Linked DNA regions of Homo sapiens. The protein of the gene in region 4 purifies or fractionates together with the protein of the main gene of each other region. This does not show direct contact. Each region holds a gene or a part of one and is shown on either strand. Other genes may lie near its edges. The genes, in order: LONP2, CHSY1, DNAJC3 and OLFML2B.

Region 1 (6,263 bases), on a different chromosome or scaffold from region 4:
CTTAGAACTAGGCAAAGATGAAAGTATAGCCAACTATTCTTGGCTATATATATATATTCAAGTGGGCCGGGCGTGATGGCTCACACCTGTAATTCCAGCACTTTGGGAGGTCGAGGTAGGCAGATCACCGAGCCCAAGAGTTCAAGACAATCCTGGCCAACGGCGAAACTCTGTCTCTACAAAAAATATACAGGCGTGTTAGCATGTGCCTGTAATCCCAGCTTCTTGGGAAGCTGAGGCACAAGAATTGCCTGAACCCAGGAGGTGGAGGTTGCAGTGAGCTGGGATCGCGCCATTGCACTCCAGCCTGGCTGACAGAGCGAGACTGTCTCTAAAAAAAAAAGACTCAAGTGGACCCTACAATGAAGCCTACACATCCCAATAGAAGCCCCTTCTTATGCTGAGGGAAGCAGCCCTCAGAACATGATAGCTTGTATCCAGCAGAGTGGCACGTGCTGGCACACCTCACAGAAGCACCCTGGCCCTGGATGCCTGCAACCTCAGAAGAGTGCAGCTCCCAGAGGGAGGCAGCCATCCATCTGGGATGGTCCTAAGCATGGAATCCTAACTCCTGATTCCGTCTCCTATTTCTTGCTTGGCTACGCCAGTTCCCAAATCTGGTAGATGTCCATGCCCATGTGCTCCTGCTGGGACTCAATTCAGGCTATGTATGACTATGAAGTCAGGCTCATCTGCTTACTGGCTGTGTGAACTTTTTGTATCTTGGTTTTCTTCATCCATGAAATCCAAGTAATACTACCTAATTGTTACTGTGGAGATTAAGTTCAAATGCAATGTATAGTAATATTAAGCAATTTCTAGTTATTATTCTAGCCAGTAATGGACTTCAGAATCTTTTATTACACAATATAAGAATATGTATGTAAAGACATTTTGGAATTTCCTGGATGAGAAGGAAGTCTGGGCTGGGCATGGTGGCTCACGCCTGTAACCCTAGCACTTTAGGAAATCGAGGCGAGTGGATCACTTAAGCTCAGGAGTTCAAGGCCAGCCTGGGCAACATGGCAAAACCCCATTTCTACAAAAAATACAAAAATTAGCTGGGCATGGTGGCACCCGCCTGTAGTCCAGCTACTTGAGGCTGAGATGGGAGGATGAGGGAGGTCGGGGCTGCAGTGAGCCAAGATCACGCCACTGCACTCCAGCACCCTGGGCGACAGAGTGAGACCCTGTCTCAAAAAAAAAAAAAAAAAAAAAGATTGGGCCAAAATACTGTGATAAAATAGCAGGCCTGCTGATAAAAGTTTATCTGAATGCATTGAGAGGAAAAGTCCAGACCTAGGACTAGTTATGGCAGTTGGAGAGAAAGAACATCGGGATGTTTGAAAATATGCCATTGACTATCTTAACTACTGTAATTTTATCATTTCCAACGTCATCTAACTGGGGACTAGAACAAACTGTGAATTCACTTTCAGCAACCAGAGGGCGCTAATCCACACCCACATCGCTCTGCCCTGTTCCACCCAGCAGGGGCAACAAGGATATAACTTGGGGTTCTCGGTATTCTTCCTTTAGTCCTGACACAGGCAGCCTTGCACTTTGTAGCAGCAGGAGGGCACTTGCTTTAAGCATATCTTTCGAAAGGCATCCATTGAGAGAATAATGCATTCTCCCCTTGCTGTGTATGACATGGAACAGTATGACCATTGCACTAGCTTTGTTTTTGGTTTGTTTTGTTTTTTTTTTAATTCCAGGGGTGGGAGGTTGGTTGGTTGAAGTCTAAGCTCTTCCTTTTTCACCTGGGTTTTTTTTTTTTGGGGGGGGTGGGGGGTTAGGGGTGGGGCGGGTGGGGAAGAGCCAAAATTTTAACCATTTTTAAGCATATAATTTGGGGGTATCAGTTACTGGATCTAAGCATGTCCACTCTACACGCTTTTTTTTTTTTTTTTTTTTTTTTTTTTTGAGATGGAGTCTTGCTCTGTTACCCAGGCTGCACTGCAGTGGCATGATCTCGGCTCACTGCAACCTCTGCCTCCCCAGTTCAAGCAATTCTCATGCCTCAGCCTCCCAAGTAGCTGGGACCACAGGTGTGTGCCACCACGCCCAGCTAATTTTTGTATTTTTTAGTAGAGACAGGGTTTCACCATGTTGGCCAGGCTGGTCTCAAACTCCCAACCTCAAATGATCCGGCCACCTTGGCCTCCCAAAATGCTGGCATTACAGGCGTGAGCCACCACACCCGGCTTACATGCATTTTTTATCACCACAAACTGAAACTCTGTACCCACTGAAAAAGAGCTCCAAATTCCACCCTCACCCCAGACCCTGGTAACCACTATTTCACTTTCTTTCTGAATTTCCCTTCATATGAGTGGGATCAAACAAGAGTTGTCCTTTTGTGTTTAGCATTCTTACTTAGCAAGCCATCAACTGCTCGAACAGTCACTGGGGCAACTACTTTTCGCCCAGTGTCCTCCAGAAAAGAAAGATCTGGAGGGTCAGGCCACTCTTTTTCTTCAAAATAATGGGGTGCAGAAGGGTAGGGATGAACCTCTTCCTCCTTTGCCACTTTAGCTTTAGCTCAAAGGAACTCCAACTTTTTATTATTTGCAACAGTTAGCTTTCTTTGTTTCACATCTCTGCCTTGCAGAACCATGACCTATCAAGGTGTTTTGTCAAACAAAAACTAATACTTTCCCTGGGAAAAAGCCATGTGGTAGCAAGTACCAGAAATTTTTATGGCCAAATAATACACCACTATATCCATAGACCGCATTTGGTTTATCCACTCATCTGCTGATTGTTTCCCCCTCTTGGGTATTATGAGTAATGCTATGAACATGGGTGTACACATCTCTCTTGAAGTCCCTTCTTAGGTCCTTTAGGGATACATATCCAGGAGCAGAACTACTAGATCACATATGCTAAGGTCTGAATGTCCCCCCACCAAATTCGTATGTTGAAGCAACCACCAACGTGATAGGTGAGGCTTTAGGAGGTGATTATGTCATGAGAGCTCCATCCTCATTAATGGATTTAGTGCCTTTATAAAGGGGCTCAAGGGAACCAATTACCTCCTTTTTGCCCTTCGATTCCCTTCCACCATATGAGGACACAGCAACAGGCCCCGTCCTAGAAGCTGAGACTGGGCCCTCAATAGATGATACCAGTCTGCCAGCACGCTGATCGTGGGCTTCTCAGTCTTCACAACTATGAGAAATAAATTCGTACTTTTAAATTACCCAGTCTCAGGTATTCTGTTACGGTTAACACAAATGACTAAGACAACAGGATAATTCTGTTTAACTTTTTGAGAACTGCCAAACTTTTCCACCGCAGCTGCACCATTTGACATTCCTTCCAGCAATGCACAAATGTTCCAGTTTCTCCACATCCTTGCCAGCACTCATTTTCTGGGTTTTTTATAATAGCCCTCCAAATGGGTGTGACGTATTTTGATTCTATGTCCCTAATGACTAGTGATGTTGAGCATTTTCTAGCATTGATTTTTAAGATGTTACCCAAAGACCCCTTGTATCAAAATAAGCTGGATTTTTTTATTGAAAATTATTAACTCTAGAAATTTTAGTTTAAACTAGACTTAGGGATATGTGTATTTTACCGGTATTCCACGTTTTATGCATGGGTTTTTAAAACTTCTCAAGTATTAAAACTAAAAGCTTTAGGTGCTTTGCTTATCAAGAAATCCTACACTGTCCACTGGAGACATCCATGTTTTTACTTGGCTCTGCCCCTTTAGTGGTCCCTGTGAACCTTACCTCAAACCATGCATCTGGGGCAGAGATCCTTACTTGCTTGGTGGTTACAAATGCAAATACAGTGAAGAATGTCATCTTTGTGATTGTTCCTGAAATAGTTCACGAGAAATCCATGACCGTAAAGTACTGTGATAGTGATGTCTACCACTGTGAGCTTCCAGTACTAGGTGATTGGTCTGCATTCACAGTGACCAAAATCAGCTATGTGGCCAGGTAATTCACTGCTGAGGGCTTTGGATTTTCCTTTATGAACTACTGAAATGAGGTCAACTTGACTATTACTAAGGGACATTTTGCTACAAAGAATGTTAGTTTTGCCAATTCCCTTTCCAAATCTAAAATTTATTTTAACCAGGATTTTAGATGTAAACATCAAGTAGTTTTGGTTGTTTCAATGAAGTAACATGTTTAAGCTCACATTATTTGAAGTACTTCAGTTCCTATTGCCATGAAAATTGTATCCAGCAGCTAAAAAAAAAAAAAAAAAAAAAGACTACAGTTAGTCATTATCCAATTTGATGATTTATGGTCCAACACTAATGCTCATTTTTTTTGTTTGTTTTACAAACATTTGGTGGATACCACAATGAAAACTGCACTTAAAAAACAAAAATGCTGAAAGAGGAAGGAAATATCAAAAAGGTCTGAATAGACAACAGGCAAATATGGTGAGTGGTCATTGAGATGTTTTAAAAGTTACAGCAAAAGGACTTCTAAAACAATTTTAGGAAAAGCTTTGTCATGAAAATTCATTTCTTTGGAAATACTGTAGTTTGTACTTAATGACACTGTCAGCACATTTCTAGGCAATACAAACTCTTGAGGCTAAATCCTCATCCTGACATGACAGTGCAAGCCTGTCAAAATGTGACCCCAAAACCAGGTGTCCTTTTGCTCCATTATTTATATCTGTAAACCTGTTATTATTTTCAGAATTCAGAAAGGCCTAAGAAAATTACATCTATGATAATAAAGTGTATTTCTTTGTCAAGTTTCTAGAGCTATATAAGGATAGCGAAAATATTTGGTTCAGCAAGACACTGGGGTATCAAGTCAGGCATAATAAGCACTTTATAGCACATCTAGCCTTCCTCATTCCCTTACGCAGTGGACATCATACCCTTTTGTGGAGGAGGGACCAGGCAGAGAAGGTATTTAAATAAAAACTGGTAGATACAGAGTCAGAAGTCAACCCAGGCAGTTAGAATCTACAACCCACACTGTTTGCCACCAAATCTTAGTAGATGCTTGATAAGGAATTTTGTTTGGATGGTGCCATTTTTAGATAAACGTACGTTTCTTTTGGTAAATTCAGGTTAGGATCATAAGCAGTAAACTACCAAATACTCCTTTGTGCTTTGAACATGCACACTGGATGAGTGGGGAGGGGAATGACAAAGCTTCAAACTCCGGGTCTCTGTAACACTCTATCTGTACCTTTCATGTTTAACCTACACAAATACCACAGTCCTGCGTGGTAGTTCACACACACTATTCACCCTGTCGAGTTTCGACATTACTTTTATGTCCATTCTAATGCAGCAGTCACAGACTGACCCCCCAGGTATGTTGGATTTGATCCATTATTTTCTTAATTTGGATTACTTACCAATTCTTCTAATCAGGAGTGTGAATGAAATAGAATTCTACCATTAGTAGAATCACTGCAGATGTTTCTAAATATGAAGAGCTTTTGGGGGTTGGAGGCAGCACACTATTATTTTGGTGAGCTAAGCTATCTACAGCCACTTACATACGTTTGAAGTTTGCAGAAAGGTGGGTCTTAAAATCATACATATTACAATAAAAATTACTCACAAAGGAAAAACTGTTCCCCAAAAATTAACACACCAAACTGGCCCATGATTAAATAGGACAATTTCAAGTTTAAGGGTATAAAAGCAATAGAACAAAGTTAATAAGTATCTCCCATACCTACCCCATGTACAGCCTCCTGAAAGACACCAAAAATAAGAAATGGAGGAAGTCTTCGTTATAACAAGCAATTTCAGGACAAGAGTTATGCCTCATAAATCAAATGTGTAATGGACCAAGAAATATGGCTATAGATCTTACCTCTATAGGCTAAGAATATGAAGACCCAAATGCAAATAGTTAATACTAAAATGTCAAGCTTATTAACTGTTAAACACAAAATGTACTACCTTAATTTGCTTAAATTAGCAAAACATGAGGTGAAAATGAAAATGGAAAACTTCACACAGTTACTGGTGTCCTCTGGAACCTCTCCAGAAAGCAATGATGAAGTGTGTAAAAAATAATCCCAAGAATATAAACAGAAAACATACAGGTATGTTCATGGTTTACTTATATCCAGCAAGAACCTAGGTAAAATTACAGTGAATCCTCAAACTAACAAAAATTATTTTTCCAAGATTATTAAAGTGGTGAAACACTCAGATGACCATGTTGTGTGATGAAAGGCCTACAAGGTAATACATAAAAGGGCTCCCAATATCTTTGAAAATAAACATGTGGCTGGAGCCAGCTGCTCATGCC
Region 2 (7,713 bases), on a different chromosome or scaffold from region 4:
AGGCAGATCACAAGGTCAAGAGTTCGAGACCAGCCTGGCCAGCATGGTGAAACCTCGTCTCTACTAAGAATACAGAAATTAGCCTAGCGTGGTGGCGCCTGCCTATAATCCTAGCTACTCGGGAGGCTGAGGCAGGAGAATTGCTTGAACCCAGGAGGCGGAGGTTAAAGTGAGCCGAGATGGCGCCACTGCACTCCAGCCTGGGAGACAGAGCAAGACTCTCTCTGGGGGGAGAAAAAGTACAGAAGATATGCGCTCAAAGCCAAGAAAAGGTAATAAAGGGGAACTGAATTTTTTTTTTAATCTAAGGCTAAAAATGTAGAATAATACCAACTTCAACCCTCAAAGAGGATATCATCTCTAGTTTCCTATGATACGCTCAGAACTAATGACAAAATTGACAAAATTAAGTTTTTCCCATGGTAAAGAATTCTGTTCTTACCTCATAAGACCAGACACACTGCACCCCTGCAAACCTCCGGACACACCTTCCCACCTCCACGTCCTCATGGGTGGTGTACATCTCCCGGAGACACTTGCCAATGTGCGGCACCATTCTCCGAAGCACCTCCCGGCTCATGATCACGCCAGGCCCCCCCATGCAGAAGTTCTCACCAGGCTCCAGGGCCAGTTTTCCCATTTCTTCCGTGGTGCCCAGGCCTGTCTGCCCAAGAAAGAGGGGCTCGCTGCTGTTCAAACTCCTCAGGAAGTTCTCCAGACGGTCTCCTTTGATGTACACGTCATCATCTGCTCTCATAAACCATTCATACTTGTCCAAGTAGTGGTCGTGCATGTACTTGAGCATCATGAAGGACTTCTTCTGGGGCGGGTAGGAGTCGTCCACACCCCGTAGTGGCACTACTGGAATTGGTACAGATGTGTCAGAACCCTCACTTGAGAAGAACTGAACTTTCCCAGGAATTGTCTTGGACCATGTTCTGGAATTAAAATAAATATCAGTTAGAGAACAGTTTATTCCAAGCTGATTTTCAGGAATTCACGTTATCTGCTCATCTTGTATCGCCGTGTTCAATGGAATGATAAAAAGCTACTTGGCCTGCTTGGTTCCTCTTAACGAAAGCCCAGGTTACCGCGTATTGCAAAGTCTAAATTAACTTTCAAAAGAACCCCAACAAAAAATGAAGAAGTGTTAAAACTGTTCTGGGATAACTAAGTTTTAGTTATGGCTGAAAACCAAACTGCCAGGGGACCAAGGTCTGGGTATACAGATTAATTTTGTGATACTATCAACTCCCTACCTAAGAACTTCTCAACTCTATAAAACAAAAAACAAAATCAAATGGTTCACTCAAAAAATTTTCTTTGAACCAAGTGCCAAGTATGTGCTAAGCTAAAGGGATGTGGTGGTGAACAAAAACGTGATCCCCAACTCACAGAGAGGACATCAGGAGAGACAGACACTTACCAGAATAATGAGACTAATGTATATATTATTATGAACTAAGAGAAGTACTCCCAAAGGGCAGAGCACAGGACATGAGCTGAACCAACAGAACAGGGAGCCTTCCCCTGAAACAGGGTAAACATCAAGGAATGCAGGGCACGAGAGCGCTGTCATGAGGCGAGGAAGAAGGCTGATACGGTTTGGCTGTGTCCCCACCCAAATCTCATCTTGAATGATAGCTCCCACAGTTCCCACATGTTGCGGGAGGGACCCAGGGGAAGGTAAGTGGATCACGGGGGCAGCTTCCCCCACACTGTTCTCATGGTCAGGAGTGAGTCTCATGAGATCTCATAGTTTTACAAGGGGTTTCCCTTTTTGCTTGGCTCTCATTCTCTCTTGTCTGCCACCAAGTAAGACGTGCCTTTCACTTTCCACCATGATTGTGAGGCCTCCCCAGCTATGTGGAACTGTGAGTCCATTAAACCTCTGTTTCTGGGCCGGGCATGGTGGCTCAAGCCTGTAATCCCTGTACTTTGGGAGGCCGAGGCGGGCGGATCATGAGGTCAGGAGATTGAGACCATCCTGTCTAACACGGTGAAACCCCGTCTCTACTAAAAATACAAAAACAAAATTAGCCGTGCGTGCTGGCGGGCGCCTGTAGTCCCAGCTACTAGCGAGGCTAAGGCGGGAGAATGGCATGAACCCGGAAGGCGAAGCTTGCAGCGAGCCGAGATCGTGCCACTGCACTCCAGCCTGGGAGACAGAGCAAGACTCTGTCTCAAAAAAATAAATAAATAAAATAATTTTAAAAACCCCTCTGTTTCTTTATAAATTACCTATTTTGGTATGTCTTTATCAGCAGTGTGAGAACAGACTAATATAGAGGCAAATGTGGCCGGGGGCAGTGGCTCATGCCTGTAATCCCAGCACTTTAGGAGGCCGAGGCAGGCAGATCACAAGGTCAGGAGTTCAAGACCAGCCTGGCCAACATGGTGAAACCCCATCTCTACTAAAAAAAAAAATACAAAATTTAGCCAGGCATGGTGGCGTGTGCCTGTAATCCCAGCTACTCAGGAGGCTGAGGCAGAAGAATTGCTTGAACCCGGGAGGCAGAGGTTGCAATGAGCCGAGATCGCACCACTGCACTCCAGCCTGGACAAAAGAGCAAGACTCCATCTAAAAAAAAAAAAAAAAAAAAAAAAAACAGAGGCAAATGTGCAAGGCCTGGCAGAGTACACTAGAGATGCAGGCCTCTATGTTGCAAGAGCCACAGGAAGCCTCTAGAGGGAATGCGGCAGAAGACAAGATTAAGGCCCACACATTTTGAACTCCCTAGGAATGGAGAAGAAGGCCGAAGGAAGCCAGAGTGGACACAGGAAGACCACTGAGTAAACTACTGCAGCAGCCCAGACCCGGGTTTAAGAGACAACGGTTGCCCATCAACAGAGGGAAGATGAGTGGTCAATTGCGAGGAAACCACATAAAGGGTTTAAGAGACAACGGTTGCCCGTCGACAGAGGGAAGATGAGTGGTCAACTGCGAGGAAACCACGTAAAGGGTGTAAGAGACAACGGTTGCCCATCGACAGAGGGAAGATGAGTGGTCAACTGCGAGGAAACCACGTAAAGGCTGCTTCTGCTGAGCAGCTAATTGAAGGCTATCATATCGCACTTTCCCTCCTACTTTCTTCACGTTCTGTATTCAGATCTAAAGTTGTTTGGCTATAATAATTCATTCATACAGACTACTTCCAAGAAAAATGTATCGTGGAGAATAAATAAAATAGTAAATTTAATCTTAAAATAAAAAAAGCAGTTATCAAATGATGTTCTTTCAAATATTTTTTATTTTACCTGTTACAAGTGTATTTATTATAGTGAAAAATTACTTGAAGGATCAATGAAACCCCCACACATCTTTAAGGGAAAGTCTTAGGAGAGAAATATCTGAAAAGATACACACCAAATCTCTGCGGAAGAGGTACACAAGGAGGAAAATTGGGAGGAGCTGGAATGTGTGTGGACAAAGGTGACTTTCACTTTTTATTCTATGCATCTCTATATTGAAGGACAACTGCATAAGTATCATATTGTTTTTTTTAAAAAAAATTGTGATAAAATATACATAACATAAAACTTACCATCTTAACCATTTCTAAATGTAAAGTTCAGCAGCATTCAGTGTTGTGAAACCATCGGCACCATCCATTTCCAGAACTTTTTTCATCTTGCAAAACTGAGATTCTAAATATTTACTTTTGTAATTTTAAAAAGAACTTACAATGAAGCACTTGGAAAACAAATGACTGGCTTTTATTTCTCTTCCAAACCCAAATATGAGGAATACAAAACAACTTCGAATGTATCTCTTTCAAGTAGAGGCAAAATTCAATGGAATTCGACTTTCTGCCAACACGCCTCTCAAAAAGTGCAAGGATTAAATATATACATTTTTTCATCACATTTAGGATGTTAACTGGAAGATGCACCATTGTTTTATCTATCAACAAATTTAAAAAATACTGCCAATCATAATCCCATGACGCCGGTAACTATAAAATGCATCCTAATTTCTGAGATGTCAAAATCACAGAATGGATATAAGATGGTGTTGTTAATGTTTTCCCTTAGTGCCTATGGATTTAAAATGGACCTGTATTCTTACGCCACTTAAATAACTCATTAACAAAGAACAAGAATAACAACAAAAAACAAATTCAGCCCAGACATTCATTCCACGGTTATTAACAGATACTGTTCTAGGTACTGCACTTCATTTTCACAAAGGATATGCTCCTGAAGAAAAAGGATGTAGAATAAACGTAGAGATGTGGAAATTAATTTAAAGAAAAACCAATCCCACCTACAAAGGGACAAGTCCTTTTGCAAATGCGACAATGTGTGAATGTGTGACAAGCTATACAGAGTCTTCTGATGCGGTGACATATGGAGGGGAGATAACTTCTCAGAACTCCTCCAGCCTTGGGAAGTTAGTAAGGACAAAATTATAGTGCAATGACCCCCCATTCAAGTCGAGGAGCCCCTGATAATGCTCTCTTTATAGAGAAATGTTTTTCATTTGGCAGTCGCAACAATTCTTTGAAAATGTAAATAATTTCAGTGCTTGGCACATAATAGAGGTCACTAAATGTGTGCACTGAATACTGCCCACTCATGTACAATAAGTAACTTAATGGTGCCACACGTGTTTGCAAAAGGTCAGAAATCATTTCTATCTTGTACTTTGAGAAATTTTCAACCTAGGAAGCCATGAAAATACTAAAACACTGTAATGTTATTTGGGAGATGGGGTGGGCGAGACAATTCCTGCCTTCAAAGAACAACCAACTAAGGAGGCGAATCTACAGCATCACCGCAAGAGCTGGCTCTGGAATCAGGCCATGGGGGCGAGAACTCCAGCTCCACTTGGGACAAGTTACTCTGTGCCTCAGTTTCCTTATCTGTAAACGGGGGTTGTTGTGAGGGTTAAATGAGCTCTCTGTAAACAGCTTAGAAGCCTGCCTGGCACTATGTAAGTATGACTTATTATTAAGGAAGACAAGAGTTTGCAAATCAAATAAGGTAGTGAAAGAACAGGAAAGTGTGGGCTCCACGTGGACTAGTCAGTCTCAGGAGCACACGGAGCAAAGGTAATGTGGAAAATGCTTCTTAAAACCTGAGCCTCAAGCTATGTACTGAAATCCTCTTTTACTATCAACTTCAGACAATGTTACAGGAAAGAGGCCTAACTGCAAATTTCACGAGCATTTCGCGGTAGAGCACGAGAAACTTCCCTACTAGACTGAGGATGAAGCTTCATTATAGTTTGGCCCTGCTTCCCGTGTACCCCACCAGGAAGAACACAGTGAAAGAGGCCCCAGCAGTACAACCAGCACAGACGCAATTAATGTCTCAACTATGACTGAAATGGTGTAATTTGCCCAAGAAGAGAAACCAATTAATTTTAAAAACAGTCTAACCTCAACCCTACAGTTTTATGGTAACTCCACCCAATTATTATCTGTTCCTTTTTAGGTAACTCAGGGAAAAACCTCATGTTGTCCTTTTCTGTTCTAAATGACTGGTGGTTGGTTTGAGGGAAATCTCTCAATGTCAAGTCTTTGTAAACCCTCCAATCTTAAGAAATTATAATCTTTTCAATTAGGGTCCTTTAACTTGAAGAGCTCCACAAAGTGAACGAGTTCAGGAACATAAATCGTGATTCACCACCATCCTGAGGAGGAGGAGGGGATGCATTAATAATTTCAAATAATTGAAGGGAATGCTCCCAAAGAAGCAAGCTGTCCCCTCTTCTGCAATATCAACAAGTCCAGTTCCTTCATTTTCATAAGCAAACGTCAGCTTTGCCATCAACACATTTGTTACCGGGAGCAAAGAACTCTCACTTAATTGAAATGACAAAACGTTTGCAGAGGCCTTGCCAGAAAAAGCTCATTTTCAATGAACTGATGTCCAACCCTTGCTCAAGCCCAGATAAGACAGCTGAAACTTGAGAGTGCCAAGTGAATCCTCCATCACTCTAGGTTTCTAAACGCTATTCCTACACTGAGTCAAATCACAGTTAAGTAATTCAGCTGGACCAGTATTAGCTTAGCTAAGGAATGCCTTTGCTGGTTAGGACTTAACCCATTTATGTCAGAGGTTGCGATTTTTTTGTGTGGAAAAAAAATCAGACTTTGGTGATAACCTTGAGCGGGATATAAATAACTCCCACAAGCTTAGCGTTCCAATAATGGAACTCTAGGCATAAATGGGTTAATATCATAGTCTCCATTTCCATTCAGTGTTGTTTTAAGAAAAACTACATAAAATACACTTCTGTACAAAACTGCATCTATAGCATGACTCTTGTCCTAGGTAAATATTCATAATATACGGGTAAGCTTAAAAAGCAGGCAACAGTATATACTTGTGATGTGGCTTACCAAGGGAACAAAAGTACATATACAAAAATAAAATAACGTACAACTCCACCCCCAAAGTATTCACCGTGGTTATTTTTGGATGGGAAAACCAGAAAGGATTTAATAGTCTTTTTTTTTGTTTTCTGAGACGGAGTCTGGCCCTGTCGCCCAGGCTGGAGTGCAACAGCGTGATTTCACTGCAACCTCCGTCTCCCAGGTTCAAACGATTCTCCTGCCTCAGCCTCCCGAGTAGCTGGGATTACAGGCACCTGCCACCACGCCCAGCTAATTTTTGTACTTATAGTTGAGACAGGGTTTCACCATGTTGGTCAGGCTGGTCTCGAACTCCTGACCTTGTGATCCGCCCACCTCGGCCTCCCAAAGGGCTGGGATTACCGGCGGAAGCCATTGCGCCCGGCCAATAGTCTTCCTTGTGTTTTCTAAATTTTCTAAGTTTTCTGCAACAGGTATATTTAGAGCTGGAAAAAAAGTTTTAACTGGGCAAAAGCTTTGAGGCTAACAAGCAACCAAAGAAATCAAAACATGTAACAACAGAGAATTTTTACTTTTGTAATAAAATTTTTTTATCCAACAAGAAAAACTGAAAGAAAAATGGAGTAAGATTGAGTCGTTTCAATTGTGATTTTTAAGCTTTAATAGTTATTCTACTAGTTACCATTAAAAAGGTGGGGAGATTTTCTGTGAGTTCCCCAAAATCACTATTACATGTGCTGTCTGATGGCTACACGGCAGTCAGTTTAAAAGGACTCATGATAAAATCATCTTGGAAGTTAAAGAAGGGAGGATATGGGTTTTTCTCTCTGTAGAACTGATGGATAATAGGAATTAAGGGTATATACAGCTGTTCCTTATCATCCAAGAGGGAATGATCCCAGGACCCCAAAATCCACAGACGCTTTAGTCCCTGATATAAAATGGTGCAGTATTTGCTTAAACCTTCACATACCCTCCTGTATACTTTAAATAGTCTCTAGATTACTCATAATACCTAATACAATGTAAATGCTATGTAAATAGTCGTTATACTATATTGTATTTACTTGTATTGTTTTTATTATTGTTATTTTCTATTGTTTTTCCCCCCAAATATTTTCAATCCATGGATGGTGGAATCCACAGATGTAGCAGATAGCAGGGCCAGCTGTATTTACATTCTCCCCTGTTACAGAAGGGATTTAAGACAACTTAACCAAAATCATACAGGATGAGAAAAATCAGCAAGAAAATGAGACCAAAGAAAAGTAAGAGTAGGAAACCCTTACGCAAGGAACGAAAGGCAAATCCTGGTGGAGGCTGCCCTGCCCAGGGCAAACCCTGACTCAGTGAGAGCACTCTCAGGAGCCACCACTTCAACTGCAAAGTG
Region 3 (4,063 bases), on a different chromosome or scaffold from region 4:
GAAGTTCTGAGTTTTTATAGGGAATTTCATGTAACAAGACTGGTTTAGAAACGTAAAGTTGCGCAGTCAACATAAATAAATACAGAATGCCATGTTCTCCACTTCTAAGTAAAGACAGTGGGCAGCTTCTGTTTCTCCTTCTATCAAGGCTTCACCCTATCTTAAAGGTCTGTGGTGCCTCCCACGTGGGACCTGTCTGCTGGTATGTGTTAAACAGCAGACCGGCCCTTCTACCAGATCTTGATGCCTCTGATTTTCTCCTGCCTACAAGAAAATACAGGCAAGGTTAGTCAGGTCTGGCTATATTTCCACTGTTGTTTCATTTAATAAGATGGCATCTCCTCTTGAGATATGTTCTTCTTACCTTTTAAGAAGATACTATTTAAGAAGTGAACTATTCAGTCTTTGTATACTGAATGCTTTTTCCCTAAAAAATGTTAATCAAGAATATTGAATATTTATGGCACTCTTGATGCTGCATTTGAAAGCTGAAGGAATTACTTTAGATAGATAGGAATTGCTACCTTTATTCTGGAAAGGTTTTGTTTCTGCCTCAAAGCATTTTGAAGTGTTTTAACCATTAAAGGGTCTAATTTTTTTTTCTTAATGAAATCAAGCATTTTAATTCACTGTGGGAGGCATCCTGACCACGGACATCCATAACAGCAAAGCACAAATCGTTTTCGTCTGTAGTCATATCCTGAAACATAGGTGGACAAATTTTTAACTGAGAGACAAAAATCACATAGTTGAATTGAGCAGAACACTTAAGTGCTTTCTGCATCTATTTAGGAGTCTATTTCTTACCAATAAACTTGACAACGCATTTGGAAAACTAGTGAACACCTTACAGCTTTCATTTTGCTTTAATGTTTCAATTCAAGCCGGTGTAAAAATAATTTCCAAGGCATTTCTGTTTATTCTTTAGTAATCTCACTACTGGCTATGTCAGCAATATCTTTTTCAATCTGGTTCCTTTTGTATATGATGTCACTGTGACCTCTTTGAAATATAGTGATGGCTTTTACCTACTTTGAAAAGAATTTTCACATAGAGTCAGAAAAAAAAGGAAATATCAAATCACTTGCCTTTCCACTTGGAGAGCACGACAGTTGCCAACAACAAGGGGTCAAGGGCCGCACAGGAGATGTGTGGGGGCCTGGCCACCTCCCACCTGCTGCCCAGAGGCTTGTTTGCATTTTCATTTTTTCTCCACTTGTAACAACCATAGTTTCAGCTCCTAAATTCTTATCATGGATTTACTTAGTCATCTTAACTGACCTGCAGTTACTTGCCTGTTTTCAGTGAAGAGAGAGAAGCAGCTCTGGTGCCACATGCCAGTGCCATGGAGGGAAATGAATTCTCTGCAATCTGTTGTTTCGCTGATTCATGAAGAAAGTAACAACTGTTGAGTTTCAGCCTTGATGGCTGTCGGCAGTTTTCTGGTGTCCACCCAAACGGAGAGACAGTCACTCCTGCTTACCCTAATGTGTGACTGAGAAGCAGCCTGGGTGTGTAAAGAGATAGTCATTCCCCCTGCCTGTCTCACTGTAGGGTAGCATTATCCACTGTAAAACCATACTACTTTCATTTTCCCTTGGGGACTACAGGTGCCAGGTAACCTTTTTTTTTTTTTTTTTTTTTTTTTGAGACAGAATCTTGCTCTGTTGCCCAGGCTGGAGTGCAGGGACACCTCCCGGGTTCAAGCAGTTCTCCTGCCTCAGCCTCCAAGTAGCTGGGACTATAGGCACGCACCACCATGCCTGGCTAATTTTTGTATTTTTAGTAGAAATGGGGTTTCACTGTGTTAGCCAGGATGGTCTTGATCTCCTGACCTTGTGATCTGCCCGCCTTGGCCTTCCAAAGTGTTGGGATTACAGGCGTGAGCCACTGCGCCTGGCCATCAGGTAACCTTTATGGCTCTTTCAGGAAAAGTGAAATCAGAGAGGCGTACCCTAGCCACAGCTGTTGTATTCTGCTCTTCTTTCCTTTTTGGTGAGCTTCATGGGTGGAGTTATCAGTGGTCTGTACTTTGTGGATATTTTGCCCAGCAGGAAGTATTAGACACATCAGTCTAGAAGCATTGTGAAAAGGTTCCAAAACGGGAGACAAAATTTAATTCATTCCTCAGTTCTGAAAGTTTGTGCTTTCTTACCATGAATAGATGAAAACTTGAAAAAAATCTTGACAGTTTACTAATGTGAATCAGATGTAACGTACTACTAATTCTACAATGCCTTTCTCTTTAGTCAGTATTAAAAATCTTTTTTAAAGTATTGGTATGAAAACAAATTTTTGTTGCCCTGATAATGGAATTTTAAAACTACCCACAGTTTAAGAGAAAACATAACTTGGTAAAAAAGGTAGCCAATAAAACCACAATTTGAAATTGATACCATTTTCTACTCACAATGGATGATGAAAAATTTCACCTTTAAATGGGTCAGAAGTTGTCTTTGACATTTACCATGAAAAAACTACATAAAATGGCTCCCTGGTGAGGTTACAGACACGGCCCTGGTGATGGGCGTTGCAAAGTTTTCACTGAGCACACAGCAATGGTATCACCTAGAGAAGTTCACGCAACTTTGTTGAATGTAGTTGACTTTTCCAAATTTATAAAGGAAGGAAGAAGGCAAATGTTAATTTGCCAACAACGAATATCCTTTTTCTAAATCAGATCATTCCTTTTTTGTTAGTGGCAGTTTATCCTGTAATTTCAAATGACGTTAAGAGGTGGGATTATTTGGGGGTTTTTTTTGTTTGTTTACAGATGATCTCATTTGCTGAATGATTGATTTAAGAGTAAAATTAGCCACTGCGTGGCTTTGTGTATAGTAACCGGTTTTGTTGCACTTGTCTGTGGCTGAAACACTTACCTGCAGTGGAAAGCCGAGCAAGGAGGAGGTAAACATTGGAGATGTTTGTGAAAATATTACTCTTGCTGTGAGGTTTTAGTTTGTTTTGAATGAGAAAAGACTAAGTAACTTAATCCATCTCAATGTAGTGTTTTAATAAAAAAGGAACCTAATATTTGAAATGGGTCTCAGACATGTCTACAAATATGGGTACTATTTTTATGCCCGTGTATTTTCACATTTAATAAAAATATTTATGGTCATATCAGTATTTCCTTGCTTTTGATTCATTTTTGTCCTTGAGTATAAAATTCTAAGAAAGTCCGTCTTAGGAAAAGTCTATTATTTCCAGCTTTGCTTCACGCAAAACCAGTGACTGAGGTGACAAAAGGGCTCTTCCTTTACACAAGTTGACAGGGAAGGTCAGAACACACAAAGCAGAAAGGGCTAAAATAAAATCTCTTAACCCTCAAAAGTCCTAGGACAACTAAGGACTTAAAAAGTGGACAAGTCTTCCATTTCAGTGCTATTAAAATGTAACACTTAAATTGGCTTTGTCTGAAGATTTTCTCTTCTCTTTTATACCCCATTTGTACATTTCTGTTAAGGTCCTAAGTTGGGAGGAAGGAAGGACACTATAGCCTATCTATCTCAAATTTCCAGCTACAAACAGAAGGAACTGCCTTCTCAGTTAATGTATTCTGCATATCTTAAGAAAGATCCAAGGAGAGCTACGATATGTAAATGTATACAGAACTTTTCCAGAAAGCTCAAACCTTCCTTTTTTTTTTTTTTTTTTTGAGACGGAGTCTTGCTCTGTTGCCCAGGCTGGAGTGCAGTGGCATGATCTCGGCTCACTGCAACCTCTGCCTCCCTGGTTCAAACAATTAACTGCCACAGCCTCCCGAGTAGCTGGGATTATAGGTGCCCACCACCACACCTGGCTAATTTTTTTGTATTTTTAGTAGAGATGGGGTTTCACCATCTTGGCCAGGCTGGTCTTGAATTCCTGACCTCGTGATCCACCTGCCTTGACCTCCCAAAGTGCTGGGATTACAGGCGTGAGCCACTGCACCCGGCCAAAGCTTCCAAATTCTTAATCGTCATGATATTGTAGCAATATATGAGCAGCCAGCCTGAGTCTGAAGATAAACAGCATGAACACGTGGAGCAGGCATGAGGGCTGTAGGGAAACTGCAAGAAGA
Region 4 (3,891 bases):
TCATGGCCCCCCACCTTGTTCTCTACACAGCGGGGGTGCTCCCTGGTGTGACCCTCTAACTTGGGGTCAGGAAGTGAGGCCGCCTACAGAGGGGTCGGGAGGAGGCTGAGGGGAGCTGCAACAGGAGAGCTGTGCTGATCTCCCTGCGGCATCCCTGGGTCCTGCCCTCCTTCATAACCTCAGGAGATGCCTGTTCAGGCTTTTTCAGATGTTCTATCTCCTGTTTTGTGTAATGTGGAGGAAAAAAATCACACTTGTGGACAGCAGGCACTGCACAGGGCTCAGCCCTGCACCGGGAGGGGCTGCAGTTCTTCCCCATCCCTCAAGTGCTTCCCTCAAGGACCTTGTTTCAGAAAGGGGCCCCTTTCCTGGAAGGGAAGGTGGGAGGGAAAGCCTGGCCGAATGAGCTTGTTCAGGAAAAGGCAGACAGGGTTATGGGCAGAAGGAGAGAAGGGGAGAGAGATGGATTGATTGAGAACTTCTTAAGGAAGTGTGGGAACAAGGTCGCACTCACTCAGTTTTGTATTTTCAACAGTGCCTAAGACCAGACCTCGAGAAGCAGGGCTAATGAATGAACGGGTTCCCCAACCTTGGGTGAAGTGATCAGAGGAGTAGCAGAACAGAGCAAGGAAGCCAGTGTGACAGAAAAATGAAGAGATCAATGCCACAAAATTAAAGAGAACACGGGGGTCGCTCATTCCAAATCCCCCACCAGGAAGCCCCTATCAGGAGGGGAGGAGGAGCTCCTAGGAACTGAACTTGGACGCAGGCCACTTCAGCTAGAGAACATTTCTGAGGAACACCAGACCTCGTCTCCTTCCGGGAGCGGGATCCAACACCTGGCCAGACATATCGGTGCTGAACAAAAGTGCACTGGGGGATGATTTTAAATTTCTTCTTTATTAAAAAAAAAAAGCGTTTTTCTGGGTTTTTTAAAACTTCTCCAATACATTAAAACTTTTTTTCTCGCCACATAGCACTTCTTTCTTGCCTCTTTCATTTCTGCTCCTGGTGTTGCCTGCCTCCTGCAAGACCCAGATGAAGAAACCTTTTCAATGGTCGAGATCTGAGACTTGGAGCTGGAGGGGCTGAAGGCTTGAAGGAAGGTGGTTACTGGTCAAAAGGAGAAGTTCATTTGCACAAAAATATAAACTGGGGAGGATGAGACCAGCACATACACGTATGGATTGATCTACAATCCATATAAAAAAATAGACCCAAATTGTCATTTTACATTTGCAATATTATACAAAATAATATATATTTTTAAACAACACATACCCACCTACACACACGTGCGCGCACACACATACACACAAGGTGCTAGTGACCCCTCTGTGCTTCTGCTTGTGGGGACAAGGGTGTCAGTAGGCAAAGATGACATGGTAAGTGACCTGGTGGCCATTGTCCCAGGCATAGAGCAGGCGGTCCTTGGGGTTGTAGTCTATCTGGGTCGTATAGGAATACTCATTCTCGAACAGCAGCCTGGGGACGATCTGTGTGTTGGTGTGGGTGTCGAAAGCGTAGGAGATGTTGGCATTCCGCTGGTTGTAGCTATCCACGGCATACAGCACCCCACAGATGACGAAGCAGTTGCCGTAGAAATTCCTCCGGAGCCCCGTGCGCCATGTGGTCTCCTTCTGTGTGCTCAGGTCCGCGGCATTGAGCTTGCTCAGGACAATGACCTCCTGGCTGAAGCCCTCATCGTCCAGGGCCGGGTAGATGAGCCATAGGCCATTCTCGTCCACAGCAAAGTCCACGTCTGAGTGGCCCTGCCATCGCCAGGGGGTGGCCTCCTCGTAGGCCACGTCATGCAGCATGGCCCAGGCAGCCACGTAGCGCTGCTTCAGGTCGTACTTGATGATGTTGCGGGTGAAGGCGCGATTGTAGTAGAAGGCGCCATTGTATACCACGTGGCCTGTGCCGATCCAGCTGTACGGGAGCTTGTAGGAATTGCTCCAGCGACCTGCAGGTGGGGAGAAAACAGGAGGCTTCAGAGTGGCATGGCAGAGGGTGGGCAGCCCATGTGGTTAAGTGAGTGATGATCAACGAGGGGTCTGGAAACCCAGGTTTGTGTCTTGGCTCTGCCACTTTCTAGCATCCTGTAGCACATCACTCAACCTGTCCGTGCCTCAGTGTCCTTATCTGTCATAGGGAAGTGACAATTCCCATCTGCCTGTTTCAAGGATCCGGGGAGCTAATATACATGAATGTGGTTCATAAATTGTCAAGGGCTATGGGAAAGGGAGCCTGTCTTCTGGACTCGGAGGTTTTTCCATGTCCCAGGAGCTCAGGAGGAGGGGCAGAGCTGAGAGGCAGAGAATGTGAGGGAGTGGGGAAGGGGGACCGCTCTCCAAGGAAAGGTCCTTTAGCCATCAGAAGAAGGTGTCATCCTTCCTATCCGTCATTACCACCCAAAGAGGCCTGGCTGTGATAAAAACAGAGGACGTGGGGAAGGGAAGGAGCAGTCTGGGTTGGATCTTTATCATGTACCTTGTTTGAAGTTCTCCAGGTTCCGGAACTCTACCAGGGTGTTGCCGTAGTAATAGTTGGTTACGTAAATCCGCTCATCCTTGGCCAGGGGGTCCTTCATCCAGGCCCCTTCATTCCGCCCATATGTGTTCTGGGTGGTCGGCCCCGTGATTGTGGAGAGAGTGTCCTTGCACCTTCCTGGTGGAGAAGAGGTGGATGGAGGTTTTGGGCTGATCTAGTGATGCCTCACCCCTTAAACCTTTGCTGTTCATCCATTTAGAGTCTGGACTCCTCGGCAGGCTTTAACAGCCCTGTATAACCTGACCCCAAACATTTTTCCACACCATCTCCTGCTACTCCCCTGATCCACCCTACACTTGACCCTACACTTGAGCCTCCACCATGCCCATCTTTGGCAACTTTCACACCACTATGCTTTGCTCCTGTTCTGACTTCTCAGTCCTATCCTTCAAAGACCTAAGATCCAGAGTCCTTTTATGACATCATGCCCTCCTCTGGAGAACTATTCTATTCTATTCCATTCAGCTCTCAGGGTACCATGAATGCTGCTCTCTTACAGAGCATGTCATCCTGCATCTCCACAATGTTTGTGCTTCTCTCTCCTCCCTCCACGCCTGCCCCCAACCGGAGCGTAAGCACCAAGGGATGAGGGAATGTGGCTTTTCCTCATTGCATTCTCAGTGCTCAGAACACGGTGTCTGGCTTGCTGCAGGCACCCAAATGTCTGATCCCAGGGTGAACACACAGCATGAGAAGTGTGGCCAGAGGAGAGGCCTCTGCTGGGTGTAACCAGGAACTCGGCTCTGCCAGCTGCTGAGCTGCCCCAGGCTGTGGGACCAGCCCTAGTGGAGCAATGGCTATTCATGTCCCTGAGGCCCACCTGCTGTCCTAGAGAGCTGTCCCCAAGCCTAAGCCCCTGTCACTACTGGGAGCAGGATGCCAGGGCCCTCTGCTGGGTAACTGGGGGGCAAGATACCAAGTTCTTGAATAAGGAGCTGACTCTGGGTATAGAAGCCTCCTTCAGAGATCAAGTCGGCCACGATGGGACAGGAACTCAGCAACGTCCTTCTGAGTGGCTCTGGATCCGGTGCCCAGGAGAGGCCCTAAAAAGCCACTGGAACTATACTGGGTTCTAGATGAAGTTGAGAGCCTGCAATGCTTATATGCAGTATTATTATTGAGCATAGCCTTGAATGATAGTGAAGTCACACGTGACTAAGGGCATGTGCTCTTCCTGTCCTCACACTTGTGGATTATGGAGGAGGTGGGAAGAGGGCAGTGGAAGGGGGCAGTGAGAGAGCCACATGAATGCTGCCCTCACAGCTTCCTTACCCCCTGCTGGCAGCTGGGGCCAGCAGAACCCCTGCCCCACCTGCCATCATGACGACACTGATGGGT

What was found.
Region 1: the proteins of OLFML2B (region 4) and LONP2 purify together in Homo sapiens (co-immunoprecipitation; 2 studies listed by BioGRID and IntAct, with this or other methods). This does not show direct contact.
Region 2: the proteins of OLFML2B (region 4) and CHSY1 purify together in Homo sapiens (co-immunoprecipitation; 2 studies listed by BioGRID and IntAct, with this or other methods). This does not show direct contact.
Region 3: the proteins of OLFML2B (region 4) and DNAJC3 purify together in Homo sapiens (co-immunoprecipitation; 2 studies listed by BioGRID and IntAct, with this or other methods). This does not show direct contact.

The regions. Positions count from the first base shown.
Region 1 is NC_000016.10:48,352,300-48,358,562, forward strand, and holds the end of LONP2 (lon protease homolog 2, peroxisomal), read left to right. Parts: 3' UTR 1-4,365; coding exon of another isoform or gene 4,366-4,411; 3' UTR 4,412-5,050; downstream 5,051-6,263. UniProt on the Homo sapiens protein: ATP-dependent serine protease that mediates the selective degradation of misfolded and unassembled polypeptides in the peroxisomal matrix.
Region 2 is NC_000015.10:101,234,640-101,242,352, forward strand, and holds part of CHSY1 (chondroitin sulfate synthase 1), read right to left. Parts: intron 939-7,713; coding exon 443-938; intron 1-442. UniProt on the Homo sapiens protein: Has both beta-1,3-glucuronic acid and beta-1,4-N-acetylgalactosamine transferase activity. Transfers glucuronic acid (GlcUA) from UDP-GlcUA and N-acetylgalactosamine (GalNAc) from UDP-GalNAc to the non-reducing end of the elongating chondroitin polymer.
Region 3 is NC_000013.11:95,791,860-95,795,922, forward strand, and holds the end of DNAJC3 (dnaJ homolog subfamily C member 3 precursor), read left to right. Parts: 3' UTR 1-3,129; downstream 3,130-4,063. UniProt on the Homo sapiens protein: Involved in the unfolded protein response (UPR) during endoplasmic reticulum (ER) stress.
Region 4 is NC_000001.11:161,982,311-161,986,201, forward strand, and holds the end of OLFML2B (olfactomedin-like protein 2B isoform 2 precursor), read right to left. Parts: intron 2,671-3,891; coding exon 2,494-2,670; intron 1,967-2,493; coding exon 1,365-1,966; 3' UTR 882-1,364; downstream 1-881.